Linked DNA regions of Homo sapiens. The protein of the gene in region 1 purifies or fractionates together with the protein of each later gene. This does not show direct contact. Each region holds a gene or a part of one and is shown on either strand. Other genes may lie near its edges. The genes, in order: PRRC2B, PLOD1 and ZER1.

Region 1 (10,861 bases):
ATATATACTATTGCTCTAATTTAGAAAACACAGACATTATCAGAGGAAAGAAACACACCAGCAACTTTACTGCAGTTAGCTCTGGATGGTGAGGTCACAAGTGATTTATATATTTATTTTGGCATTTATTCTTTTCAGTATTTTCCTTTTTTTTCAGATGGAGTCTCGCTCTGTGGCCCAGGCTAGAGTGCAGTGTCGTGATCTCGGCTCACTGCAAACTCCGCCTCCCGGGTTCATGCCATTCTCCTGCCTCAGCCTCCTGAGTATCTGGGACTACAGGCGCCCGCCACCACGCCCGGCTAATTTTTTGTATTTTTAGTAGACACGGGGTTTCATCGTGTTAGCCAGGATGGTCTCGATCTCCTGACCTCGTGATCCGCCCACCTCAGCCTCCCAAAATGCTGGGATTATAGGTGTGAGCCACCGTGCCCAGACTTTTTTTTTTTTTTTTTTTTTGAGACAGAATTTCACTCTGTCTCCCAGGCTGGAATGCAGTGGCACAATCTCGGCTCACTGCAACCTCCACCTCCCAGGTTTAAGTGATTCTCCAGCCTCACCCCTCCTGAGTAGCTGGGACTACAGGCACTCGCCACGGCATCCAGCTAATTTTTGTATTTTTAGCAGAGACGGGGTTTCACCATGTTGGCCAGGCTGGTCTTGAATTCCTGACCTCAGGTGATCCGCCCACCTCGGCCTGCCAAAGTGCTTGGATTACAGGCGTGAGCCACCGTGCCCGACCTACTTTTTATTCTTTTGAGACAGGGTCTCACTCTGTCGCCCAGGCTAGAGTGCAGTGGCATGATCACGGCTCACTGCAACCTCAACCTCCCAAGCTCAAGTGATCCTCCTGCTTCAGCCTCCCAAGTAGTTAGAACTACAGGCATGCGCCACTATACCCTACTAATTTTTTCTTTTAAGAGGCATTTTTTTATTTTCATCACATTGCCCAGGCTGGTCTTAACCTGGCCTCAAGCAATCCACCTGCCTTGGCCTCCCCAAGTACTGGGATTACAGGCATGAGCCACCTTGCCCTACCACAAGAAAAATGTATTTAAAGGGCCTTGTACAATGCCTGGCAAATGATAGGTGCTCAAGGAGTATCTATTGCCTGACAAGTCAATTAAAAATGCAATAAATACTGCTGCTGCAGCCCCACAGAGAAAAAGACTGATGGTTATCTTGGAAAGGAGGAAGACGGTCCAGACGGAAGCCACACAACTGGCTGCAGAGGTAAGAACGGAAGGAAGTCCTGTACAAGATGTGAAAGACCGCCAGCAACTTGAGATAGGCTTTGTTCTGCCAGCTACTCCTGCTGCACGCAATGCTTCACAAATCAGTGCTGCTGCCAGCACCTCGGAGGTGCACTTCAGCTCGGACGAAGGATGCTTCTCAGGTCACACAGAAAACCAACAAGTACAGCTGAGAACAAAGCTCAACCACAACTTCTGGCTCAAGACACTAAGACAAACCTACCTCCCAGCACAAAAGAGATTTCCCACGTGCCACCCAGAGGTATAAACAGTAATATCGCCAATGGCAAGGCCCAGGTCTGCCAGCTCCCAGGTGAGGAGGTCCAGTCTGAATGGCACCTTTTAAACCTAAAGCTAATGACAAACAATTCTATTTCACCAGAAACAAAGCTCACCATATCCCATGTCGCTCCCATCTCCAACACCACAGCCAGTGCCTGTATTTCTTTGTCCCAATGACAGACCCAAGTTTCCTGAGGCTGTACAAGTCCCAGAAATAATCTTAAAAAGAGATCAAGTTATGATCTGAAAAGAAGACAGTCTAGTTAGCCCTGCCTCCTTACATGAAATTTATTTAAAACCAAAATTACAAGATTTGGAGCACAAAGCCCATTGTCTGCTGGAAATGTTGTTTTTTGGGGAGAAATCCATTGTTTTAAAATCTAGTATAGATAGGCTCTATTTAGTACCTGTCCGCCCATGACAAGATATGTACATTTCACGGTAGGGAAGCCTCATTATTGAATTCAGAAATACATGAATTGACCCACCTGGCCTATTCTGGTTTGAAATAGAAACCAACACAGAAATGATCAATCTTAAGGGGTAGGATAATGAGACATATAACTAGCATACAGCCACAGCCATTAGCAACATGAGTCAGTACTTTGTGCAAGGCAAAAAAAAAAAAAAAAAAAAACCCTCAAAAGTACAATAAAATAATCCTTCAGGATAAAAAAAGAGAACTGAAATTCAAAAGAGGTTAGGAGTGTTGAACAGGAAAAAAAAAATTAATAACAAAAATCCCTCAGCTAAGCACAAGGCAAAGGGACCCATGCTGGAACCAGTTCTGACCTGCCATTCCTGAAATTCCACTCTCCCGAGGTTTCCTGGCTCTTCCTTCCCCAGGCTTTCTTTTTACCTATTTGGGCCCAGTGGAGGCTGGAGACGGCCACTGTACGAGATGGGACGCCCACACAGTGGGCTTAGGGCCTAAGGCAAGGGCATGCAATCAGCATTAGGGGGCCACAGATAACCAAAATTCACAGGTATGCAGAAGCTCATGGGAGAGGCAGCGACTATCTCCTGGCCTAACTAACCAGTTAACAGTATAGAGCCAGACTGGGCCCGAGTGAAGTCAGACAAAAAGGAAGGGCCAAGAGGCAGGAAGCGAGGAAAAATCAAAGGATGACAGGACCCTGCTAAAATATCTCAGTTCCACAGCTAGGAGGTCTGGAGGGGGTGCCACATTTTACCAAAAAACCAACAAGATGGTTGCGGGAATGCCAAAATGAACCAAAACAAATTCCCCAATAAAATGCAGAACCACTGCAGAGCCATTTACCAACAAGCTAACATGTTCAGCCAAGAGGTGACCTGGGTCTCAGTCCTCACTTGTGGCCAACACTGGGTTCAGTCTGTCTCCTGCTTCTTAGCAATAGTCCTTCCACACAATCTCAAACAGCAGACACCGAGATCTGGCTGAGCTCCCTAGCTGTACTAAGCCATTCTGGTGCTTCCAGGTAGATGGGTGATAGTCACCATAGCAAAACATTAGCCGGCCATAGAATTTGGGGTGGGGAAGTCACAGTTCCATCAACCAAGAGAAGAGGAAAAAATAAGCATTAAGAGAAAGAAGACCGGGCGCGGTAGCTCAGGCCTGTAATCCCAGCACTTTGGGAGGCCAAGGCAGGCAAATCACCTGAAGTCGGATGTCTGAGACTAGCCTGGCCAACATGGTGAAACCCTGTCTCTACTAAAAACACAAAAATTGGCCAGGTGTGGTGGCACATGCCTGTAATCCCAGCTACTCCAGAGGCTGAGGCACGAGAATCGCTTGAACCCAGGAGGCGGAGGTTGCAGTGAGCTGAGATCACATCACTGCACTCCAGCCTGGGCGACAGAGTGAGACTGTCTCAAAAAAAAAAAAAAAAAAAAGAAAAGAAAAGAAAAAAGAAGGAAGGGAAGGAAGGAAAAGGAAGGGAAAGGGAGGGAGGGAGAGAGGAAGAGGGCAAGGGAGGAAGGAAGGAGAAAGGAACCAGAAAAACAGATAATCAACAAACACATACATTTCATCACCTTCCTATGGAGAGAAAACAATTCACTGTGAATCTTAAGTGAGGCTCCCAAGAGCCCTAATAGATACCCAAGGCAGGCATAATTATTCCCATTTTACAGATGCAAGATCTGAGCCTCAGAGACTTGCTTTGTAAAGGTAACCCGATGAGGACCAGAATCCAGCTGCGCAGGCTCCAAGAGACACACTTGCCCAAACAAGTAGAAACTCACTCTCAGATGATTATCTGCCAATCCCCAAGGAAAGCAGTTATCCTCAGAAGGCAGGACTCCTTGGGCGTCTGTTTGTCCTGAGCATCTCGTACTGTTCTAACCCTGCCTTAAACTGACCAACTGCCACACACTCCGGGTCTACTAAGTTCTAGAGACCTCCAAATGCTACTTTTTCCCATCCCTGCCTCCCGAGAGGCTCAGCACTGTATAAGCGCCCACTAATGTTTGGGCCTTGAATTCCTTCTGTATTGTCCATGCCTTAGGCCAGCACCTGTGGCATCCATGGGCACAGTTTGGCTCTATGGGTGGCACCACAAGGGGCTCACGTCTGTCCTAGGACTTGACAGCAGTTATACCAACAACCGTAGGAGGAACCACTAACTGTGCCAGGCCCTCTGCTAGGCCCTTCACCGCTGCCCAAACCTGCCAGGTGGAGGGTGCACGCCCCGATTTATGCAGATGAAGCCTCAGACAGCCCCAGAGTCACTAGGTTTACGGAAGAAAGAAGCAGGATCTGCACCCCAATGCCTGGGCCTCCCCAGTCCCACCTTACACCACAGCGCTGTGCATAGACATGACTAAATGGCTGCAGCGAGATTCGGAAAAACCATGCTAAGACCGCACACAATTGGTTACAAAAACCAAACTGGATGACACTGTACAAAGCCACATCAAATGCACACTAAACCTTAAAGAAAAAAAAAATCTTAGGGAAAGTTTAACAGTCCTGTAAACCAAAGGCATTTAAAGATTTCTCCCAGGAAGCCATTTAGCAAAAGACACTCCCCAGCCCCCCTTCTCCCACTTCCTTCAAGCTCACCACTGAAAACACCTCCAATTCTTGCCTAAAGGTGGGCTCCGACCTCCCACGATATTTAGAAGGAGGAAAAAAGAAAAAGGAAAAAAATCCACCTCTTAAGGCAAATCCACTCTTCAGAGGCCCACAGTTTCAACAGGGCTGAATTTCTCTCCTGGGGGTTGAGGGGAGGCAAAAGAGGAGGAAAAAAAAAAAAACCCCATCTGGCAGGCCCCGAGTGGCGACATCCTGTTTATTATTAAACATTTTTAGCATGGAGCATTCAGCATTTCGAAAATAACCCTCTGGTTCCCGCACTCACACCGAGACTGGGCGGCCGCTCGCCTCCCTCCCCCAGCCGCCAACTTTAGCGCCGCCGGGGCCCGGCCCACCCCGCGCCAGGAACGGCCCCGCGAACGCCGCTCAGCGCCCCGGACCCAAGGCCCGACCCCGCAGGATCCCGCCTCGGGCGCGCTGCTCCGTCAATTGGGCGGGGCGGGGAGCAAAGACGCCGGCCCCAGAACCCCGAGACCCGGCTGCGGGCCCGGGACCCCCGCCCCTCCGGCCTCTGCAGCCCGGCCCGGCCTCGGGGGTACGGGGGTGGCGGGCGAGCCCTGAGGGAGTCGCGCGGCCCCTGGACCCCGCCCGAGCCTGAGGCCGCGCGGCGCCGCCACAACAATGGCGAGCGCGCCCGGGCCCGCCGCCCCCAGGCCCCGCGGCCTCCCAGCCCCGCAGCCCCGCGCCCGGCGGGAAGGAGGCGGCGGCGGCCGCGCTCGCGGACAAAGGTCGGGCAGGGCCGCAGGGCCCCCGGGCCCCCGGCGGCGGCCGCGGGAGACAAAGCCCGGCCGGGCCGCGCCGCCTCCATCTTAGCGCCGCCGCCCCCACGCCCCGGCCCCGGCCCCGGCCCCGACCCACCTGGTCTGGTTCCGCGGGCGCGGCCGGGCCGGGCGATGGCAGTCGGGCGGCGGTCGGGCACGGGGGCGGCGGGATGGCGGCGGATTGCGAGGCGGCGGCGCGGGCTGCTCGCTCGCTCGCTCCCTCCCTCCTCCCGGGCTCGCTCGTCGCTGCGCGGTGGAGCCTCGGCGCCTGTCTCGCCGCTCGCTCCCTCGCGCTCGGCTCCCCGCCCCCCGCCTGCCGCCGCCCCCGCCTCCTCGTCCTCCTCCTCCCGCCGCCGCCCGCAACCTGGGCCCGCGCAGCGCCCCCTGCCGCGCCTCCCGGGAGCGGCGGCCTTGGGATCGGCCCGGGGGCCGGGCGAGGGCTGGGGCCAGGGGGGAGGGGCGGGGAGCGGCGGGAGGGGGCTGGGAGGGGGCTGGGAGTGGGGAGGGGCCCGGGGACGGCGGGAGAGGCGGGAGAGAACGGGGCAGAGCGGGGATCGGGGAGGAGACCCGGAGGAGGGGCCAGGAGCCAAGAGAAGGGGCCTGGGAAGGGCATGGGCCCGGCCTGGGCCCGGGGGAAGGGCGCCCGGAAAGAGGGGGAAGGGATGGAGGGGGCAGTGACGGGGGAGCGAGCCCGGATCTCCGCCCCCTCCCCCTTCAAAACTGCAGCGCCTCAGAACAGACTAAGCCCGGATTTTGTTAAAATATGTATACGGTATATGAACGGAAAGGAAGCAGAAATAATACTTTTTTCATTTCAAAAGCAAGGTTGTTGCACAATATGGGTACTTTGTCCCATTTTTACAAAATGAAAACTAATAAGCCCCTCCTCTTGAGTGTTGTGTGTTTGTGTGATTGCAAAACAAAAGGTCCGGGAGACTGCACTCCTGTCTTGGTTACCTCCGTGGTTTGAGGTTGGGAGAGCGGAGGAGGGTTCTTACTTTTTTAGACACCTAACCAACTATAAAAGCAATTTCAAAAAGCAAATACAAAAAAAAAATGTTAGGGCCTGGCACCCAAATCATCCCACCCTCTTCCAGTCACGGTTGCTCTAAGCACCAGCTGCGGGCCATGCCCTATGCTAAAGCACGTGGTTTGTCTCACTTAATCCTAACCCAGGGGCAGATATTATTGTTCTAATTCACAGGTGAGACAAAGGAGGCTTTGAGAGAATGTGCCCCAGGCCACACTGCTGGACCCAGAAGGAAAATTAACCCACTTCAGCCTAACTCCAGAACTGAGGCTGGTGAACAAAGCTTAGTTTTTGGGGAGTAGAATTCTGGATACTTTTATAGCCTTATTTATAATTCTCTGAATTTTCCTACATTTTATCCATGGTCATTTTCAGTGTTATCCTTTTTTTCTTTTTTCTTTTTTTTTTTTTTTGAGACAGTCTCGCTCTGTCCCCCAGGCTGGAGTGCAGTGGCACAATCCGCAATCTCTGCTCACTGCAACCTCCAACTCCTAGATTCAAGCGATTCTCCTGCCCCAGCCTCCTGAGTAGCTGGGATTACAGACATCTGCCACCATGCCCAGCTAATTTTTGTATTTTTGGTAGAGATGGGATTTCACCATGTTGGCCAAGTTGGTCTGGAACTCCTGCGCTAAAGTGATCCACCTACCTTGGCCTCCCAAAGTGTTGGGATTACAGTGCCGGCCACTCTGTTTTACATCATCAAATCTGCATTATTCCCCTGCCAATGTCTTCAATATTTCGCTATCTCTACAAAACAGGGAGGATGTAACCCTAATTTTTGTTTTCGATTTTGTTCCTTGACCATCTTCAGGAAGGCCATAGAATTGGCCCAGTGCTCAAAACCCAGCAACTAATAAAAATGATAGAAGGCAAATAAACAAATAAAAAATAAATTAAATAAATAAACTGAGCCTCAGGTTCTTCATCTGTAAGGCTGGCGCAGTGGCTAACACCTGTAATCCCACCACTTTGGTAGGTCGAGGCAGGTGGATCATGCGGTCAGGAGTTCAAGACCAGCCTGACCAATATGGTGAAACCCCATCTCTACTAAAAATACAAAAATTAGCCAGGCATGGTGGCAGTCGCCTGTAATCCCAGCTACTTGGGAGGCTGAGGCAGAAGAATTGCTCAAACCCGGGTGGCGGAGGTTGCACTGAGCCGAGATCATGCCACTGCACTCCAGCCTGGGTGACAGAGTGAGACTCCATCTCAAAAAAAAAAAAAGAAAGAAAATAAACAAGCAAAAAAGAAATAAACTATCTGAAGCCTCAGATTCTTTATTTGTAAGGCCAAGCGTGGTGGCTCACCCCTGTAATCCCACCACTTTGGGAGGCCGAGGCAGGCAGATCACCTGAGGTCAGGAGTTTGAGACCAGTCTGGCCAACATGGTGAAACCCCGTCTCTACTAAAAATACAAAAATTAGCCGGGCATGGTGGTGGGGTCCTGTAATCCCAGCTACTCGGGAGGCTGAGGCACAAGAATCACTTGAACCCAGGAGGTGGAGGTTGCAGTGAGCCAAGAGCACGCCACTTCACTCCAGCCTGGGCAACAGAGAGAGACTCTGTCTCAAAACAAAATGATAGGAGGAGGCTGAACAGTAACAGGGTGGTTTACTGAGCACTTACTATGTGACAGCCACTGTGCTAAACACTCCCTATAGAGTCACTCAGGTAATCCTCACGACATACCCATAAAACAGACACTAGTGTGCCCATCCAACAGAGAAGAAAAGTAGACTTTGTGGAGGCAATACAATGCCCCCCACCAAAGATGTCCAAGTCCTGATCCCTGAAATCTGTGAAAATGGTACCTTCTCTGGCAAAAGGGATTCTGTAGATGGGATGAAGTTAAGGATCTTGAGATGCAGAGATGAATCCTGGATTATTTGGTTGGGCAGGTGGAATCACAAGGGTCCTCACAAGAGGAAGGAAGGAGGGTCGGAGTCGGAGAAGATGTGGTTGATGAAGCGGAGTTCATCATATTGACTGACAAAGGAATGACGCAGGACCTCACGCCCAGAAATGCAGGCTGCCTCTAGAAGCTACAAAGGACAAGGAATGGATTCTCCCCTAAAGCCTCCAGAAGAAAATGAGCCCTGCCAACCACCGTGACCTCCAGAACTTTAAGATAACAAAGTTACATAAGCCACTAAATGTGTGGTAATGTAGCAATAGAAAACTAGTACAACCTTGGAGACTTGCTGAAGGCAACACAGCGAGGGAAGGGTTAAAAGGCAAGCTAGGGCCAGACACAGTGGCTCAAGCCTGTAATCCCAGGACTTTGGGAGGCTGAGGTGGGCAGATCACTTGGTCAGGCGTTCGAGACCAGCCTGACCAACATGGTGAAACCCTGTCTCTACTAAAAATACAAAAATTAGCCAGGCCTGGTGGTATGTGCCTGTAATCCCAGCTACTCAAGAAGCTGAGGCAGGAGAACTGCTTGAACCTGGGAGGTGGAGGTTGCAGTGAGCCGAGATTGCACCATTGCACTATAGCCTGGGCGACAGAGCGAGACTCTGTATCAAAAAAAAAAAAAAAAAAAAAAAGCTAGGGCACAGTGGCTCACGCCTGTAATCCCAGCACTTTGGGAGGCCGAGGCAGGTGGGTCACGAGGTCAAGAGATCGAGACCATCCTGGCTAACATGGTGAAACCCCATCTCTACTAAAAATACAAAAAATTAGCCAGGCGTGGTGGCGGGCGCCTATAGTCCCAGCTACTCGGGAGGCTGAGGCAGGACAATGGCATGAACCTGGGAGGCAGAGCTTGCACTGAGCTGAGATCACACCACTGCACTCCAGCCTGGGCGACAGAGCAAGACTCTGTCTCAAAAAAAAAAAAAAAAAAAAAAAAGGCAAGCTAGGAGTCTTGGGAGAGAAGAGACCTGGCTTCAAATCCAGCTCAGCCATCTCCTACCTCCCTGACCATCCTCATGGAGAGAATGGCATGCAGTCATCCATCCCTGCAAAGTGCTTAGCCCAGAGGAGAGCCCTGGGAATCAAAGTTCGTCCGTTCATTCACTGGGCACCTGCACTCTGGTGCTCACTGTGCCAGGCTCTGGGGCCATGCTGTTGAACTGGGCAGAGAAGGGCCACTACAGTCAATAAAACAAACACAGGCCAGACGCAGTGGCTCACGCCTGTAATCCCAGCACTTTGGGAAGCCAAGGCGGGAGGACCACGAGGTCAGGAGATCAAGACCATCCTGGCCAACACGGTGAAACCCTGTCTCTACCAAAAATACAAAAACTAGCCAGGCGTGGTGGCGGGCACCTGTAATCGCTCGGGAGGCTGAGGCAGGAGAATCGCTTGAACCCAAGAGTTGGAGGTTGCAGTGAGCCAAGATCGCCACTGCACTCCAGCTTGGCGACAAAACAGGACTCCATCTCAAAAAAAAAAAAAACAAAAAAAAAAACAACCATGTTCCGAGGTTTTAGTTCTGGTTCTGTCTCCAACCAGCAGAGCTAGCCTTTTGGTGCCTAAGAGTTTCTACCTGCGAAAATTGGGTGGGGAGCACTGTGGTGTCTCTCCAGCTGGGATCCCCAAGCAGAGAAGAGAGCTTGGCACAAAGTAAGCACTCAATCTCCATGGTGGTTGAAAAGTGGATGCCTGGACAACTGAGGCCAAAATCATGGCTCCTGACCAACCACACAAAACACACGGCTCACAAAACCAGCCAAATAAGCACATGCACTAAAGCCTCCAAACCTCAGCAAGCCTGGAGGTGGGTGCCCAGCCTCCCTTCCCCTACTGTCACCACTATGGGGACAAAGCATCCAGCAAGGTGTCAGAGGAAGAAAACATACCTGGTGTTTTGAATACCTGCACTTAACAGTCGAGAAAATAGAGCATCAGAAAGTTCAGTGACTTGCCCAGCCAGGCACAGTGGCTCATGCATGTGATCCTAGCACTTTGGGAGGCCAAGGTGGGCGGATTGCCTGAGGTTGGGAGTGTGAGACCAGCCTGACCAACATGGAGAAACCCCATCTCTACTAAAAATACAAAAACTGAGCCAGGCATGGTGGCGCATGCCTGTAATCCCAGTTACTTGGGAGGCTGAGGCAGGAGAATCGCTTGATTCACCAGGGAAGCGGAGGTTGTGGTAAGCCGTGATCCCAGCACTGCATTCCCGCTTGGGCAACAAGAGCGAAACTCTGTCTCAAAAAAAAAAAAAAAAAAAATTGAAAGGAGCCAGGCGCAGTGGCTCACACCTGTAATCCCAGCACTTTGGGAGGCCAAGGTGGGTGGATTGCCTGAGCTCAGGAGTTCGAGACCAGCCTGGGCAACATGGTGAAACCCCCATCTCTACTAAAATACAAAAAATTTGCCAGGAGTGGCGGCATGCACTTGTAGTCCCAGCTACTTGGAAGGACGAGGCAGGAGAATTGGTTGAATCCGGGAGGGGGAGGTTGCAGTGAGCCAAGATCATGCCACTGCACTCCAGCCTGGGCAACGGAGC
Region 2 (7,343 bases), on another chromosome or scaffold:
GGAAGGGGCAGGAGTTGGTGGGGAGGTCGAGGCCAGTGTGGGGCAGGGGGATGGGGTGGGAGGGGTAGGGTGGAGTGGGGGGCTTGGGTGGAAGGGCCAGGGGTGGGTGGGGGCTGGAGAGTCTGGCAAGGGGAGGGGCTGGGGAAGGGGTTGGGTTGGAGTACGGGTGGAGGAACATCCCAGCTTATGGGAGAGGCCTGGATATTTGGTCCCCAGGCAGGAGTGAGGTCTCACCGCACACACCCCCTCCATCTAGTAGCGTGTGGGAAGACAGGGTGCTGGGCTGGGACTCTAGGGCCGGCTAGTTGGCCTCTAGCCTGAGCTGGAGTCTCACTCAGCCTCATGAGTAGCTGGGATTACAGGCACCTGCCACCATGCCTGGCTAATTTTTGTATTTTTTGTAGAGACAGGGTTTCACCATGTTGGCCAGGCTGGTCTCAAATTCCTGACCTCAAGTAATCCGCCCACCTCTGCCTCCAAAAGTGCTGGGATTACAGGCATGAGCCACCGTGCCTGGCCGACCTCAGCTCTTTTGAATCTTTCTTCCTTGTCATTAACCCTGCCTCAGTGGCTCCTATACCAGCCCACCAAAAAAGCACCCCTGCCCACCTTAGCTGGCCAGCGTGCCCACTCCCTCCCTAGCCACAAGCCTGTGCCCCACGCCTGGGCCCTGCTTCGTCCGAAGCAGCCTTCTTCCAATAGTGAGGAAAACCCTGAACTCCTGTTACTGACAGTTGTCATTCATCCCTTGAATGCTTACTGTGGTTCCCCGGAAACAATTACCTGGCTGGCCTCGGTTAATTCTCACAATTCTTTCCAGTGCTATCACTCATGTGTCTGTCCACTGCTACCTTGGCTTTCTCCAAGGTACTTTCTCCAAGACTCAGTTCCTTCCTTGGTCTCTGGTTTCTCCAGATACCTGCCCATGGCGTGCCTGGGTCCTGCCTCAGGGAATCCAGCCTGGATAGTTGCCAGAAAGGGTTGTGAGGATTGGATGCCCCCCTTTGTCTTTGTCTTTTCATTCATTCCTTCGTTCCTTTCTTCCCTTCCTTCCTTCCTTCCTCTCTCTCTCTCTCTCTCTTTCTTTCTCTCTCTCTTTCTCTTTCTCTGTCTCTTTTTCTTTCTTTTCTTTCGCACTTGTCACCCAGGCTGGAGTGCAGTGGCGCAATCTTGGCTCACTACAATCTCCGCCTCCCAGATTCAAGCGATTCTCCGGCCTCAGCCTCCCAAGTAGCTGCGATTACAGACGCCCACCACCATGTCTGGCTAATTTTTTGTAATTTCAGTAGAGATGGGGTTTCACCATGTTGGCCAGGCTGGTCTCAAACTCCTGACCTCAGGTGATCCGCCCACCTTGGCCTCCCAAAGTGCTGGAATTACAGGCGTGAGTACCATGTCCGGCCTCCTTCCCTTTCATTTCTTCTCTTCCCTTTCATTTCTTCTCTTCCCTTTTCCTCCCTTCCTCCCTCCCTCCCTTCCTTTCTTCCTTCCCCTCTGTTCTCTTCCTTCCCTCCCTCTCTCCCCTCTGTCCATACATTTTTGTTGAGAACCTTTTCTGTGCCAGGTAGTTGCAGGCACTCGAGCATAGAGCCCCATGTAGACCTGGCCCCTGTAAGCTGACCTGCAGCAGGCCAGACCAGGCCCCATGTGTGCACCCTCCTCTCCTGGCCTTTGTGTCCTCCTTAACTAACACGGGCTCTCTTGTCCCCCTGCCTTGGTACAGGCCCAGTTTGACCTGGCCTTTGTCGTCCGCTACAAGCCTGATGAGCAGCCCTCACTGATGCCACACCATGATGCCTCCACCTTCACCATCAACATCGCCCTGAACCGAGTCGGGGTGGATTACGAGGTGAGCAGGAGCCAGCCGGGGTCAAGGGGCCGGCAATGGGGATGAGGAGGGCTAGCTGAGGAGAGGCTTCAGGGTGGTTGAGGCAGAGGGGCCCCAGGTAACCAGTGCCAGAGAACCAGAAAAAAAAGGATGTGGGTCTGTGGGAGGGCTTCCTGGAAGGGTTCACAGTCTAGCAGGAGGAGGGGCCAGGCTCTTAAGCTACTATTTTAAGAGATTTTTGGGCTCGGCATGGTGGCTGATGCCTGCAATCCCAGCAGTTTGGGAGGCCAAGGCAGGCAGATCACTTGGGGCCAGGAGTTTGAGACCAGCCTGGCCAACATGGCGAAACCCCATTTCCACTAAAAATAGAAAAATTAGCTGGGCGTGGTAGCACACACCTGTAATCTTAGCTACCCAGAAGGCTGAGGCATGAGAATCTCTTGAACCCAAGAGGTGGAGGTTGCAGTGAGCTGAGATCATGCCACTGCACTCCAGCCTGGGCAACAGAGCGAGACTCTGTCTCCAAAAAAAACAAAAAGAGGTTTTTTGAACTTAGCCCTGGGCTGGGTGCTGTGGAGAACACTCATAAAAACAGCTATAATCCTTTTTTTTTTCTTTTTCGAGACAGGGTCTTGCTCTGTCACCCAGGCTGGAGTGTAGTGGCATGATCACAGTTCACTGCAGCCTCAACCTCCTGGGCCCAAGCAATCCTCCCACCTCAGCCCCCCCAAGTAGTTGGGACCACAGGCGTGTGCCACCATGGCCAGCTAATTTTTTTTCTTGCTTTTAGAGATGGGGTTTCACTATGTTGCCCAGGCTGGAGCTATAATTTTTTGAGAGCTTACAACAAACATATCAGGCATCCCTAATCCAAGGATTCTCAACCAGGAGCAACTGTGGCCTGCAAGGGACATTGGCAGTACCTGGAGACATAATTGGTTTTTACAACTATGAGGGGCTACTGGCATCTAGTGGGTAGAAGTCAGAGATGCCCGGGACAGCCTTCCACAGCAAAGTGTCTATAGTGGTGAGGTTGGGAAGCTTGATCCTCAGCTCTCAATTGTAACATCTCATTTAATTCTCACTATCCTGTTCTGTTTAACCCTCATTTTACAGAAGGGGAAACTGAAGCTCAGGTTGGTCACAGTTAGTAAAGAGTGGAGGTGATGTCTGCCCAGGGCTGCCTGACTCCAAGGACAGAGCTCTTGATCACTTACTCTTTGGGTTTTTTTTTTTTTGAGACAGTCTCATTCTGTTGCCCAGGCTGGAGTACAGTGGCGCGATCTCGGCTCACTGCCTCCTGGGTTCAAGTGATTCTGTCTCAGCTTCCCGAATAGCTGGGATTACAGGCGTGCGCTGCTACACCCAGCTGGTTTTTGTATTTTTAGTAGAGATGGGGTCTCACCATGTTGGCCATGCTGGTCTTGAACTCCTGACCTCAGGTGGTCCACCCGCCTTGGCCTGCCAAAGTGCTGGGATTACAGGCGTGAGCCACCACTCCTGGCCACTACTCTTCATTTAGTGTCTTCCTTAGCAGCGCTTGTGGCTGTCACTCCAGAAGGCATCCCCAGGCAGGCAGTGCTGAGGGCCACTTGGCCATGACAGGAGATCATGACGGGAGAACAGACGGGCAGGGGGGCGGTGGGGAAAGGCCACTGATGCTTTCTGTCTCCCAGGGCGGGGGCTGTCGGTTCCTGCGCTACAACTGTTCCATCCGAGCCCCAAGGAAGGGCTGGACCCTCATGCACCCTGGACGACTCACGCATTACCATGAGGGGCTCCCCACCACCAGGGGCACCCGCTACATCGCAGTCTCCTTCGTCGATCCCTAATTGGCCAGGCCTGACCCTCTTGGACCTTTCTTCTTTGCCGACAACCACTGCCCAGCAGCCTCTGGGACCTCGGGGTCCCAGGGAACCCAGTCCAGCCTCCTGGCTGTTGACTTCCCATTGCTCTTGGAGCCACCAATCAAAGAGATTCAAAGAGATTCCTGCAGGCCAGAGGCGGAACACACCTTTATGGCTGGGGCTCTCCGTGGTGTTCTGGACCCAGCCCCTGGAGACACCATTCACTTTTACTGCTTTGTAGTGACTCGTGCTCTCCAACCTGTCTTCCTGAAAAACCAAGGCCCCCTTCCCCCACCTCTTCCATGGGGTGAGACTTGAGCAGAACAGGGGCTTCCCCAAGTTGCCCAGAAAGACTGTCTGGGTGAGAAGCCATGGCCAGAGCTTCTCCCAGGCACAGGTGTTGCACCAGGGACTTCTGCTTCAAGTTTTGGGGTAAAGACACCTGGATCAGACTCCAAGGGCTGCCCTGAGTCTGGGACTTCTGCCTCCATGGCTGGTCATGAGAGCAAACCGTAGTCCCCTGGAGACAGCGACTCCAGAGAACCTCTTGGGAGACAGAAGAGGCATCTGTGCACAGCTCGATCTTCTACTTGCCTGTGGGGAGGGGAGTGACAGGTCCACACACCACACTGGGTCACCCTGTCCTGGATGCCTCTGAAGAGAGGGACAGACCGTCAGAAACTGGAGAGTTTCTATTAAAGGTCATTTAAACCACTGAAGGGAAGATGCTCAGGGCGAGTGGGTGTGTGTGTGTCTTGGTGTGAGTGTCTGCAGGGAGAGAGGTTTTAAGAGCCCTCTTTTTTTTTTTTTTTCTTTTTTTGAGACAGAGTCTCACTCTGTCTTCCAGGCTGGAGTGCAATGACGCTATCCCCGCTTTCTGCAACCCCCGCCTCCTGGGTTCAAGTAATTCTCCTGCCTCAGCCTTCCGAGCAGCTGGGGCTACAGGCACCCATCACCACGCCTGGCTAATTTTTGTTTTTTTATTAAAGAAAGGGTTTCACCAGGTTGGTCTGGCTGGTCTTGAACTCCTGACCTCAGATGATCCACCCACCTCGGCCTCCCAAAGTGCTGGGATTACAGGCATGAGCCACCGTGCCCGGCCAAGAGCCCTCTTTTTAGAGCCTTTAAGAAAGGTCATGCTAGCCTCTCGACCCCTGAGTAGCTGGGATTATAGGTATCCATGCCTGACACATTTTTGTATTTTTTGTAGAAACGGGGTTTCATTTCACCGTGTTGGCCAGGCTGGTCTCGAACTCCTGACCTCAGGTGATCCATCCGCCTCGGCCTCCCAAAGTACTGGATTACAGGCGTGAGCCACCATCCCAGGCCTGAAAGTCTTTTAAAAAAGATTTTTGAGGCCAGGCACAGTGGCTCACACCTGTAATCCCAGCACTTAGGCTGAGGCAGGCGGATTACCTGAGGTCAGGAGTTTGAGACCAGCCTGGGCAACGTGGCGAAACCCTGTCTCTACTAATAATATGAAAAAATCAGCCGGTTGTGTTGGCATGCGCCTGTAATCCCAGCTACTCGGGAGGCTGAGGCAGGAGAATCGCTTGAACCCAGGTGGTGGAGGTTGCAATGAGCCAAGATTGGGCCACTGCACTCCAGTCTGGGTGACAGAGCAAGACTCCATCTCAATTAAAAAAAAAAAAAGATTTTTTAGTCTTTTCATTTTCAAAATTGACTCATTGTAAATTCAAACAGCACAAATCTTAATCTTTCTGTCATCCTTTCCCCCCAGCTGCTCAGTTCCTCTCTCTGAAAGCCACCATGTCTAATCTGTTTTTTGAACGTTCTTGAGCTGGTTTGTGCCGACACAAGCCTGTGTGTGTGTTTGTGTATGTTAGGGTTATTTTTGTTTTTGTTTTTGAGATGGAGTCTCACTCTGTCGCCCAGGCTGGAGTGCAATGGCATGATCTCGGCTCACTGCAACCTCTGCCTCCCGGGTTCAAGCAATTCTCGTGCCTCAGCTTCCCGAGTAGCTGGGATTACAGGCACCCGCCACCACGCCCAGCTAGTTTTTGTATTTTTAGTAGATATGAGGTTTCACCATGTTGGCCACGGTGGTCTCCAACTCCTGACCTCAGATGATCCACCTGCCTCGGCCTCCCAAAGTGCTGGCATTACAGGTGTGAGCCACTGTGCCCGGCATAGGGTTGTTTTTAACTGTTAACTTTTTTCTGATTACAAACTCATCTTCACCATGAAAAAGTCAAACAAAATAGGTAACATGGGGGGCCGGATGCTGTGGCTCACATCTGTAATCCCAGTACTTTGGGAGGCTGAGGCGGGTGGATCACTTGTGGTCAAGAGTTTGAGACCAGCCTGGCCAACATGGCAAAACCCCCATCTCTACAAAAAAATACAAAAATTAGCCAGGTGTGGTGGCAGGTGCCTGTAATCCCAGCTACTTGGGAGGCTGAGCTGGGAGAATCACTTGAACCTGGGAGGTGGAGGTTGCAGTGAGCCAAGATTGCACCACTACACTCCAGCGTGGGTGACAGAGCAATAACCTGTCAACAACAACAACAACAAAAAGTAATATGGACCGGGTGCAGTGGCTCATGCCTGTAATCCCAGCGCTTTGGGAGGCTGAGGTGGTAGGATCACTTGAGGCCAGGAATTCTCAACCAGCATGGCCAACATGGCAAAACCCTGTCTCTATTAAAAATACAAAAATAAGGTGGGCTTTATGGCACATGCCTGTAAACCCAACTACTCAGGAGGCTGCAGCACGAGAATCGCTTGAACCCGGGAGGCAGAGGTTGTAGTGAGTTGAGATTGTGCCACTGCACTCCAGCCTGGGTGAGAGAGCAAGACTCTTGTCTTAAAAAAAAAAACAAAAACGTAAGAAAGAAAGGTCTCCTGGAGTTGTACATCAGTGTGCTCTGCACCCATTCCCAATAACACTCAGCACTGCTAGGAGAGTTTTGTCATCCCGAGGGTTGAAACGAGGATTCAGCCATCTCAATGAGAAACACATGTTAATGGGTTGAAACATATCTCCAAACTGAGATTTCCTCTACTTGCTGGGCAAGTATGCAGATGTGTTTCAGAGATAAAGCCCAGCTGCTGGGCAGAGTACAAGACTAAATGCCTGGGAATGGATTCAGAGGTTCCTACAGCAGTCCAGGCAAGTGACCAGGACCTAGACCAATGCTTGCAGGGAAATTTAGGGAAGAGGAGGGAGTGGGCAGGGGAGATGTTTAGGAGAGAGAACATCCAGGCTTTCACCTGACGGGCAAGATTCTGCTAAAAAGGAAAAGGAAGGCTGGGCGTGGTGGCTCACACCTGTAATCCCAGCACTTTGGGAGGCTGAGGCGGGTGGATCACCTGAGGTCAGGAGTTTGAGACCAGCCTGGCCAACATGGTGAAACCCCATCTCTACTAAAAATACAAAAATTAGCCAGGCATGGTGGTGCACGCCTGTAATCCCAGCTAGTGGGGAGACTGAGGCGGGAGAATTGCCTGAGGCGGAGGTTGCGGTGAGCCAAGATGGTGCCACTGAGCTCCAGTCTGGGCAACAGAGTGAGAGCGAGACTCTTTCTCAAAAAAAAAGAAAAAAAAAAAAAAAGAGGAAATGGAATTTATAGTTCCTGCCCTCAGAGAATGGAAGTGGAATTTAGAGTTCCTCTCCTTAGGGAGTCCAGAGATTGTGGAGGAGGAAA
Region 3 (11,022 bases), 2.6 Mb from region 1:
TGGTCTCTCATGTATGTTATACTTCATAAAAGTTTTTTATTTTTTTGAGACGGAGTCTTGTTCTGTCACCCAGGCTGGAGTGCAGTGGGGCAATCTCAGCTCACTGCAACCTCTGCCTCCCAGGTTCAAGCGATTCTCCTGCCCCAGCCTCCCGAGTAGCTGAGACTACAGGCGTGTGCCACCACGCCCGGCTAATATTTTGTATTTTTGGTAGAGATGGGGTTTAACCGTGTTAGCCAGGATGGTCTCAATCTCCTGACCTTGTGATCCGCCTGCCTCGGCCTCCCAAAGTGCTGGGATTACAGGCGTGAGCCACCGCACCCAGCCCCAAAAGTTTTCTTTTAAGTGCAGGCTCTGTGGTCAGACAGATCTATGTTTTGACCCAGTTATACAATTCACTGTAAAATTACTTAACCTCTCCATTGAGGCCAACATAGTGAAACCCCGTCTCTACCAAAATACAAAAAAAAAAGCTGGGTGTTGTGGTGCACACCTGTAATCCCAGCTACTCAAGAGGCTGAGGGAGGAGAATCACTTGAACCTGGGAGGCGGAGGTTGCAGCGAGCCAAGATTGCGCCACTGCACTCCAGCCTGGTGACACTGCACTCCAGCCTGGCGACACAGCGAGACTCCGTTTAAAAAAAAAAAAAGTTACTTAACCTCTCCAGACCTCAGTTTCCTCATCTGAAAAATGGGGATAATAGGCCAGGCGCGGTGGCTCACGCCTGTAATCCCAGCACTTTGGGAGGCCGAGGCAGGCGAATCATGAGGTCAGGAGATCAAGACCATCCTGGCTAACACAGTGAAACCTGTCTCTACTAAAAATACAAAAAATTAGCTGGGCGTGGTGGTGGGCACCTATAGTCCCAGCTACTCGGGAGGCTGAGGTAGAAGAATGGTGTGAACCCGGGAGGCGGAGCTTGCAGTGAGCCGAGATCGCGCCACTGCACTCCAGCCTGGGCGACAGAGCCAGACTCTGTCTCAAAAAAAAAAAAAAAGGGAGGGGGGGATAATAATCTCTACTTCACAGGGCTGTGGTACTAAATGAGATAATGTTGAAGAAATGCTTAGTCCCAGCCCAACAGACTAAGTACACAACATGGTGGTTATGACCCCACCTTTTTTTTCTTTTTTCAGAGTCTTGCTCTGTCACCCAGGCTGGAGTGCAGCGGCACCATCTCAGCTCACTGCAACCTCTGCTTTCCAGGTTCAAGTTATTCTCCTGCCTCAGCTTCCTGAGTACCTGGGACTACAGGCACCTGCCCCTACACCCGGCTAATTTTTGTATTTTTAGTAGAGACGGGGTTTTGCTATGTTAGCCAGGCTGGTCTCGAACTCCTGAGCTCAGGTGATCCACCCGCCTCGCCTCCCAAAATGGTGGAACTACAGTCATGAGCCACCATGTCCAGCCCTATGACCCCATAATTTGTTTTTTTTTTTTTTTTTTTGAGACAGAGTCTCACTCTGTCACCCAGGCTGGAATACAGTGGTACGATCTCGGCTCACTGCAAGCTCCGCCTCCTGGGTTCATGCCATTCTCTTGCCTCAGCCTCCCAAGTAGCTGGGACTACAGGCGCCTGCGACCACGCTCGGCTAATTTTTTGTATTTTTAGTAGAGATGGGGTTTCACCATGTTAGCCAGGATGGTCTCGAACTCCTGACCTTGTGATCCGCCCGCCTCAGCCTCCCAAAATGTTGGGATTACAGGCGTGAGCCACCGCGCCCGGCTGACCCCATCTTATAGAGGAGGAAACTCAAGGTCAAACAGAGGGAGCTGTGTAAACTAGACTGGAACCTGGTCTCGTGGAATCCCTCACATCTCTTAGAGCAAGCTTGTCCAACCTGTGGTCCATGGGCTGCATGTGGCCCAGGACAGCTTTGAATGCAGCCCAACACAAATTTGTAAACTTTCTTAAAACATTATGACATTTATGGACTTTTTTTTTTTTTTAGCTCATCTGCTGTTGTTAGTGTTGGTGTATTTTACGTGTCGCCCAAGACAGTTCCTTTTCCAGTGTGGCCCAGGGAAGCTAAAAGATTGGACACCCCTGACTTAGAGGGTTCTGGAGTTCTGGGGCCCAGCATTGTCCCAGCTTCTGGGAGCCTCCCTCTGTGCCCATTTGTAAACCTTCCAGACTGCTCAGGAAATCCAGCGGGAAGCCACAGGGCACACTGGGCTTTGGAATCAGCCAGTTCTGAGTTCAACTGTGGCACCACTGTCTACTGGGGACTGTGTGTGGATGGGCTGTGGATTCAGGCAGGCATAGCTCACATTTCAGCCTTGCTGCTCACGAGGAGACAAACTTGGGCAAGTGTCTCCACCTCTCTGTGCCTCAGTCACTTTTCCTCTAAAATAGAAGCAGCACAATACCTCATCCCCAGCACGGTGTGAAGATTCCATGGAATAATATCAAAAGGGCTTAGAACGGTGTCTGGCATGTAGTCATTGCTCAATAAAGACAACCGTTATTATGTTGTTGTTATAATCATTACCTTCTCCTACCTCATCTGCCCTGGCTCCCAGCTCCGGGCCTGTGCTCCCCGGCCTGGGTCTCCCACAACAAGGCTCATTGTGTCAGCTGTCCCACTGGCAGCATGGCACCCTCGAGGGAAGGCACAAAAGCCAGGATGCCTGGGCCCCGGGCATGGCCTTCCTTTGCCTTCATTTGCTTCAAGATCTTTAAGAGCCCAGCAGCCTCTCTTGCCTGGGAAACTGGAACCAGAGGGAGCACTGCTGGCAGAGAGTCCCCACTCTTGGAAAGCAACTCTTTTCAAGCCCACCGGAATTACAGCCAGCTTTCTGGCCTACTTGGTCCCCACTGCCCCCCTACTCCAGCCAGCCTGGCCTCATCATTCACTGTCCTGGCAAAAGGCCCTCGGCACAGGTCACCTTCAGACCTTTGCCCAGTCTGTTCTCTTTCAACCAGGACCATCCAAATTCAACTAATTACTGCACTTTCTAATTTAAATACTGCCTTCTCCCCTCCCCTACCCAAATACACTCCATGTCCTTCCTCCAGGAAGTATCTCCTGGCCACTCCAGCCCACATGATCTTTGAACTCTCCTTTCACGTAGCTGATACCTATGGTCCCAGTGTCAAAGTTACTTCCTCTGGGAAGCCATGCTTAACCCACCAGGGTGTGCCTGCTGAGTCCCCCCACAGGCCCGATCTACCACAGCAATGAACACTTGGTACGATGTGGCTTTGATGATTCAGCATCCTTGATGGATGGCCAGGTCCATGAGGGCAAAACCAGGCTGTCTTGTTTGGTATCACCTCCCTGGACCTGCTCACTCAGTCCCTGCTGAGCACTGGGGGTCCTTGGTGAGCGAGCCGGACAAGGTCCTTGACCACATGGAGCGTACTGGCTCCGGAGGGAGACAGATCCACCTACAGGGCCCATAAGCGCCTGTCGCGTAACTGGGACCAGTGTCTTGCAGGAGAAGGGGCCTGGGGCTCTGGATGCCCAATCAGGGGACTTGCCCTGGACTGGGGAGTCAGAGCAGGTATCCTTAGAAGTGACATTTCAGGCCAGGTGCAGTGGCTCACACCTGTAATCCCAAAACTTTGGGAGACTGAGGTAGGTGGATCACCTGAGGTCAGGAGTTCGAGACCAGCCTGGCCAACATGGTGAAACTCCGTCTCTACTAAAAATACAAAAATAAGCTGGGCTGGTGGCGCACGCCTGTAATCCCAGCTACTCGGGAGGCTGAGGCAGGAGAATTGCTTGAACCCGGGAGGCGGAGGTTGCAGTGAGCCAAGATCACACCATTGCACTCTAGCCTGGGCAATAAGAGCAAAACTCCATCAAAAAAAAAAAAAGAAGTGACATTTCAGCTGGGACCCAAAAGATAAGTCCTAGTTAACTCTGGTGGAGGGGAGAGAAGGGGAAGGCGCTTTGGGAGGAAGCAAAGAAGTACCTAAGCTGCAAGGAGAGGGGGTGCATGGGACGTTGGCACTACGGGCCCAGGTCCATGACTATTTGCTAAATGAACAAAGGAAGCACTGAACACTCAATGTGGGGCCTGCCACAAGGTGAGGTTTCAACAAAGGCCTGTGGAAGGAATGACAAAGTACTCGCCATCAGAGGTCTGCACGAGGCCTGGGAGGTATAGTACACTCTCGCATTCTCCCTGCTTGCTGCACTCAGGACACTGCTGGGCGCCCAGTGGCTGCAAATGATGCCTCTTGGCTCGGAGGCTCTGAATGAGGGAGAGCCACTGGGGTTTTGCCTTTTCTGCAGGTCTGAGCCCAGTTACCTAGGCAGCTGCTCTGCCCTTACCATGCTCCCCAAGTGGAAGAAACACCACCACGTCAGTTGTCACGGTCACCAAAAGCCCCCAAAACATAAGCCAGGTAGATGGCGCCATCTGCTAGCCTCCCCTTAGCAGTGTTGACCTTGCCACTCAGGGCTGGAATGAGCTGGAAGAGGAAGCAGCCATCTTACATCCTGGCACAGAGACTGAAGGGCCCCGGGGCTACCATGCCCTGAGACCCATCCAGCTGCGGGCCTGGCACCTGCCAGAGGCAGCCATCTCTACCTACTCCACTCTACCTACTCCATTCCTTAGGGATTGTCATTCTCAGGGCAGTCACAGGCCATCTGGAATTCCAGCAACTGAGGACAGAGGGAGCTCTGGTTATGACCGACCACCACACTGGGAGAACCCTGTGTCTTTCTCCATCCCTTTTCTTGCATGTTCTCTAATACTAGGTCTATCATGAACATTCGACATCCTGGGGAATGAAGGAAGTGGGAGAGAAGAGAGAGAAAAACAGCACCAGCAGCAGCAGCAGCAGAAGGCACCGCCATACCACGTCCATGTTGGCTGCTTCCAGATGTGGTCCTAAGCTCCTTACAGGCTTTACTCCCTCGAGTCTCTTACTCAACCGACAAAATATTTCCTAGTACCCTGTACTTGCAACTAATTAATCATTTACATAACAATTTGTCAACTGACACCCTCCTACTGCCTGTGAGCTCTGGGAGGACAGAAGCTGTATGCTTGCTTGCATGCCTGCATCCATGCACATGTACACACACACACACACACACACACACACACACACACACGTGCGCAAGCGCGCACGCACCTGTATCCTTGGTGTCTGACTTCGGTGCCCAATTTATGCCTGGTGTTTAATAGAACAAAGGTTTGCTGTGGCTGGAATTCCCTTACTCTAGTACTGCAAGATAGAGATTATTACCCCATTTTCTGATGAAGATACTGACGCATACACAACTAAGCAGAAGCTTGCCTGAGATCACAAAACTGATGAGAGTGGGATGCAAACCTAAAGCAGACCCCCGCTTCTCACCAAATATTTGGTCTTCAGTCCATCCATCCAAACAATGGGAGGGAAAGAGAAACTGAAGTCTGGAGGTGGGAGCATGGGATCCCACCAGTGTCCTGATACCCAGAGGACAGAGAGGTTGGGGGAGCCAGAAGCTCTGAGCCTTGGAGCAGTACTCACCCTGTGAAATATTAACCTAGGAGCTGGGGGGAAAACCCAAACAAATGCCCTATTTACAGAGGCTAGACGCTTTCCAGGAGGCAGCAGATCAAGGGCCAGAGACTGGGGGTGTGAGGGGAGTCACAGCAAGTGTGGGGATCTCCAGGTGGTCGGGAAACAGGTGAAAACCAGACGCCACCTGGCTCTGAAAAGTCTGCAGAGATTAAATCTATGAGTTGGGTTATGTCAGAAAGATGCAGACACACAATAATTGGGGAGTGTGCCTCACAGCTAGGTGGCTGCTCATGATGCTGGAGACAGAGAGGCCTTGAGGAGGCTGCATTCGGCTAGTAATCAGACTGGTTGGGTTCTATTCTTGTAACCAAATGTATTAATGATCCTACCCATACTGAATACCAAGTATATACCAAGAATTCTGGCTGGGCGTGGAGGCTCACGCCTCTAATCCCAGCACTTTGGGAGGCCAAGGCGGGCGGATCACGAGGTGAAGAGATTGAGACCATCCTGGCCAACATGGTGAAACCCTGTCTCTACTAAAAATACAAAAATTAGCAGGGCGTGGTGGCGGGCGCCTATAGTCCCAGCTACTCAGGAGGCTGAGACAGGAGAATTGCTTGAACCCGGGAGGTGGAGGTTCCAGTGAGCCAAGATTGCACCACTGTACTCCAGCCTGGCAACAGAGCAAGATTCCATCTCAAAAAAAAAAAAAAAAAAAGAACTCTGTTAAGTATTTTATATGTGTTAATTAATTGAATTCTCTCAACACCCAACAAGGCAGGAGTTACCATCTACAACTTACAGAAAAGGCAGCTGGAAGGAAGGGGCTATGGCTATGCAATTTGCCAGAGACTATGGATCTGAACAGACAGATATGTACACAGGTAGTTCATTAGTTCAAGACGCAGTGTGTCAGGCTGGGCACAGTGGCCTACGCCTGTAATCCCAGCACTTTGGGAGGCCAAGGCAGGTGGATCACCTGAGGTCAGGAGTTCGAGCCCAGCCTGGCCAACATGGTGAAACTCCATCTCTATTAAAAATACAAAAATTAGCCAGGCATGGTGGCGGATGCCTGTAATCCCAGCTACTTAGGAGGCTGAAGCAGGAGAATCGCTTGAACCTAGGAGGCAGAGGTTGCAGTGAGCCGAGATTGCACCACTGCACTCCTGCCTGGGTGACAGAGCAAGATTCCGTCTCAAAAAAAAAAAAAAAAAAAAAAAGACCCAGTGTGTCCAGCTTTCCAAGCAGTTCGCATCAAAGTCACAGATAACTTATTTATTTATTTATTTATTTTTCTTTCTTTTTTTTTTTGAGATGGAATTTTGCTCTTGTTGCCCAAGCTGGAGTGCAATGGCACAATCTCGGCTCACTGCAGCCTCTGCCTCCTGGGTTCAGGCAATTCTCCTGCCTCAGCCAACCAAGTAGCTGGGATTACAGGTGCCCGCCACCATGCCAGGCTAATTTTTGTATTTTTAGTAGAGACAGGGTTTTGCCATGTTGGCCAGGCTGGTCTCGAACTCCTGACCTCAGGTGATCCACCTGCCTCGGCCTCCCAAAGTGCTGGGATTACAGGTGTGAGCCACTGCGGTCGGCCTATTTATTTATTTTTCTTTTAAGAGACAGGGTCTCACTCTGTCACCCAGGCTGGAGTGCAGTGGTACGATCTCAGCTCGCTGCAACCTCCACCTCTCACGTTCAAGCAATCTCCCACCTCAGCCTCTGGAGTAGCTGTGACTACAGACGTATACCAACAGACCTGGCTAATTTTTTTATTTTTTGTAGCGATGAGGGCTCACCATGTTGCCCAGGCTTGTCTCAAACTCCTGGGCTCAAGCAATACGCCCACCTCAGCCTCCCAAAGTGCTGGATTACAGGTGTGAGCCACCGCACCCAGCTGCCACAGATAACATTTTATCAATATGATAATACATTATCATTTTGTTTCCCAGATAAGGAAACAATGGTTGAAAGATGAGCAATGAGTTGTTCCTCCGGTAAGTGTGTGACCCTAAAGTTCGAGCCCCTTGCCATTATGCTATGGGGAGGGACCATTTCTCCAACCTCAGCTTTCCCTTCTGTTCCACGAGCCTCCGCCGCTTCCTTACAACTCAGGCACTGAGCTCACATGATCCAGTACTGCTGGTAACCACTCCGTGGCATGTCATTTTTTGGCCACAGCATTGAAAGCTTCCTGAGGGCAGGGACCCTATGTGATTTCTGGGGTCTCCATTACAGAGTATGTGAGTGGCTCAATGCCAGTGACAGGGCCTCGGCTCCACAAGATCCCCAGCCAATGTTTTCCAGCCTCAATATTTATCAAGGTCCTTACCTGTCAGCATGTTGCGAGTGGCACACGCTGTGTTGCGCGTGTTGTGAACAGGGTTGCTGAGGAGATGCCATGAAAGGATGGCAGGAAGGTGGTAACCAATAATTATGAAGAGTGATGTTCCTGAGAATAATGCTTCAAGAGACCCTTCTGCATCTCTGAAGCTGGAAAATCAGTTTCAGCGATTGCGCCAGATATAAGACAGTGGTCCACAAATAGATAACCAGACAGGGGTCTCTGCACTCACCTCTCAGGACTCCAGAACAGATGAGGTACTGAAGCCAAGCAAAAAAACCAGAGTGCCAAGAGCAGTCTTCCAGCTAGTGGGCCCCCAAAACGTGTCTGCATAATCCTAGTGGTACTAATGATAATACCTTTGTAGAGAGCTTCAGAACACACCTAATTCTTTCACAAGCTGTGTCTCATTTCATCCTCCCAACAGCCTTTAGAGTTAGTCGGAGGCAAGGGAAGGCCATTATTCTTAATCTACAAATAGGAAAACTGAGGCCCAGAGAGGAGATGGAACCTGCCTAACTCACACAGCAAGCCAACAGCAGAGCCGGGATTTGAACCAGGTCCGCAGGTCACCAGCCTGGGGTTCTACCCACAACAGCCTACCCCAACATGCTGGCTCTCAGCTCCTAAGTGCTCTGACCTTTCATTTTCAAATTCTCTGGCCCAGTTGCCCTGCTCAGCCTGTGTCCCAGGCCTGAGGATATAGTCCGGGCTTGGGGTATAAGGAGGGAGATCAACTGTGGTTCTGCTTCCTATAAAGCAGGCTGGAAAGTCTCAGCCTCTGCCGGGCACTTCCGGATCACCAGCCTCTACCCGTAGATCAGCCACGCACACTCCAACCACATATCTAGGCCCAGCATACACTGCCCCTCCCCACCTGTCTCCAAGTCACATTCATTTCAACACCCTCATTTTGCCTATTTTACGTGGTAGAATGGAAATTTGCTGGGCTCATTTTAATTCTTTTTTTTTTAGAGATAGGGTTTCCCTATGTTCTCCAGACTGGTCTCAAACTCCTGGCCTCAAGCGATCCTCCCAAAGCGCTGGCAGTGCTGGGCTCTTTTTTAAAAGTCCCCATCACCCTCCGCTGCTGTCAGAAAAGCCAGGACCAAGCTAACGTCTTCTCTGCAGAATATTAACCCAGTTACCTCTGAGGGGTGTCAAGAAGTTTCTGTCTTGCTTTCCCCAATATTTCCTCAAATCCTACTAGTTGATGGAGGCAGCTAGAGCTGGTGACACCACCAGCTAGTGCTAAAACGAACGGCTCTGAGGCAGACATACATGCCCACATTCCTCATCATCACATCATCCTCATCAGCGTGACCGCTATGTATTGAGCACTTTGTGTGAAATACTGCATTAAGCACTTCAGCCCATGATTTTATCTAATCCAACAGCCCTATTTTCTTTTCTTTTCTTTCTTTCTTTTTTTTTTTTTGAGATGGAGTTTCGCTCCTGTCGCCCAGGCTGGAGTGCTGCAGTGGCATGATCTCAGCTCACTTCAACCTCCACCTCCCAGGTTCAAGCGATTCTCCTGCCTCAGCCTCTCCAGTAGCTGAGATTACAGGCATGCGTCACCACACCCGGCTAATTTTTGTATTTTTAGTAGAGATGGGGTTTCACCATGTTGGCCAGGCTGGTCTCGAACTCCTGACCTCAGGTGATCCACCTGCCTCCCAAAGTGCTGGGATTACAGGTGTGAGCCACCACACCCAGCCTGCTGTATTTTCCAGATGAGAAGATTGAGGTGGAAAAAGGTCCCGTGCCCACCTTCTCACAACCAGGAAGCAGCGGCATAACTTAACTTGATTTAATCGCAGTTCTCTGTGACCATGATTCTTTGTATTTGTTCCATCAATGGTCATTACAAAGATGGAAGAAGGGTACTTACAACCGAAGCCCCAAGCACAATGGCCATTTGTCATCTAAAACAAATCTGTATTTTCTCCAACCACCAGACACTTCAACAAGTACGGTTCTGAAAGGGTGTCCCATTAGACACCCTGTGACCCTGTATCACAAGGACAGCCCCTGATGTCTTCCCCACCTTTTTCTGGTCCCCACTGTTCTCTGACTTTCTTGCCAACCACTCTTCCCTTTCTTCAACCTGCTCCAGTCCCCCATCCTCCCACTGTTTCTTTCTTTTTTTTGAGACAGAGTCTCACTCTTGTCACCCAGGCTGGAATGCAATGGGCACAATCTCGGCTCACTGCAACCTCCACCTCTCAGGTTCAAATAATTCTCCTGCCTCAGCCTCCTGAGTAACTTGGATTACAGACATGAGCCACCACGGCCAGCTAATTTTTTTTTTGGTACTTTTAGTAGAGATGGGGTTTCACCATGTCGGCCAGGCTGGTCTTGAACTCCTGACCTCAGGTGATCCGGCTGCCTCAGCCTCCCAAAGTGCTGGGATTACAAGCGTGAGCCCTTATGCTGTTTCTTCAAATCACCAGGCATATGACCACAGGACCTTTGCATTTGCTGCGGAATGCTCTGCCACAAGAGAACTACCTGGCTTGCTCCCTCACTTATCTCTGCTCAAAGGTCACCTTACTAGAGACCTTCCCTGAACACCCTCTATAAAATGACAACTCCCAACTCCTTCCCCATGGTCCTTCCTTCTCTATTTTTCTCCAAACCACTTATTACCTCCTTACATATCATGTTTATTATTTGCTGAATGAACAAATGAACCAAAGTAGCGAGGCCCTTCACCCCTGGCCACCACTTTCTGCTCTAAGTATAGCCTCCCGTGACCCTTTTCAAGGCTATGCTTTTATGCTCATCCTAACCAGTTTGAAGTCTGAAGAGAAACATTCTGTGAAAGATCATATATGGAAGGATTTTCCCAAGACATCAGACATTCCATTCCCCTCCCCCTTAAAAATCAAATGCACTAGCTGAGCGCGGTGGCTCATGCCTGTATTTCCAGCACTTTTGGAGGCTGGAGCGGGCGGATCACTTGAGCCCAGGAGTTCGAGACCAGCTTGGGTAACATAGTGAGACCCCATCTCTATTTAAAGAAAAACAAAACAAAACAAAACGAATGGACTGACAAACACAGGCAAAGACTGGAAATCTTGGGCTCTTTCGGTCAAAGAGCAGCCAAGACAAGTTCCACCCAGAGAGCTATAGTGGCCAGCACAGTCAGTTTCACTATCAACTCACCTGTCGGGCTCCCTTGGCCCTCCGGTTGCAACCTCACCC

The links.
Region 2: the proteins of PRRC2B (region 1) and PLOD1 purify together in Homo sapiens (affinity purification with mass spectrometry; 2 studies listed by BioGRID and IntAct, with this or other methods). This does not show direct contact.
Region 3: the proteins of PRRC2B (region 1) and ZER1 purify together in Homo sapiens (affinity purification with mass spectrometry; 2 studies listed by BioGRID and IntAct, with this or other methods). This does not show direct contact.

Annotation. Positions count from the first base shown.
Region 1 is NC_000009.12:131,388,872-131,399,732, reverse strand, and holds the start of PRRC2B (protein PRRC2B), read right to left. Parts: upstream 5,648-10,861; 5' UTR 5,470-5,647; intron 1-5,469.
Region 2 is NC_000001.11:11,971,149-11,978,491, forward strand, and holds the end of PLOD1 (procollagen-lysine,2-oxoglutarate 5-dioxygenase 1 isoform 2 precursor), read left to right. Parts: intron 1-1,723; coding exon 1,724-1,849; intron 1,850-3,504; coding exon 3,505-3,660; 3' UTR 3,661-4,389; downstream 4,390-7,343. UniProt on the Homo sapiens protein: Part of a complex composed of PLOD1, P3H3 and P3H4 that catalyzes hydroxylation of lysine residues in collagen alpha chains and is required for normal assembly and cross-linkling of collagen fibrils.
Region 3 is NC_000009.12:128,760,175-128,771,196, forward strand, and holds part of ZER1 (protein zer-1 homolog), read right to left. Parts: exon of another isoform or gene 10,984-11,022; intron 1-10,983. UniProt on the Homo sapiens protein: Serves as substrate adapter subunit in the E3 ubiquitin ligase complex ZYG11B-CUL2-Elongin BC. Acts to target substrates bearing N-terminal degrons for proteasomal degradation with the first four residues of substrates being the key recognition elements.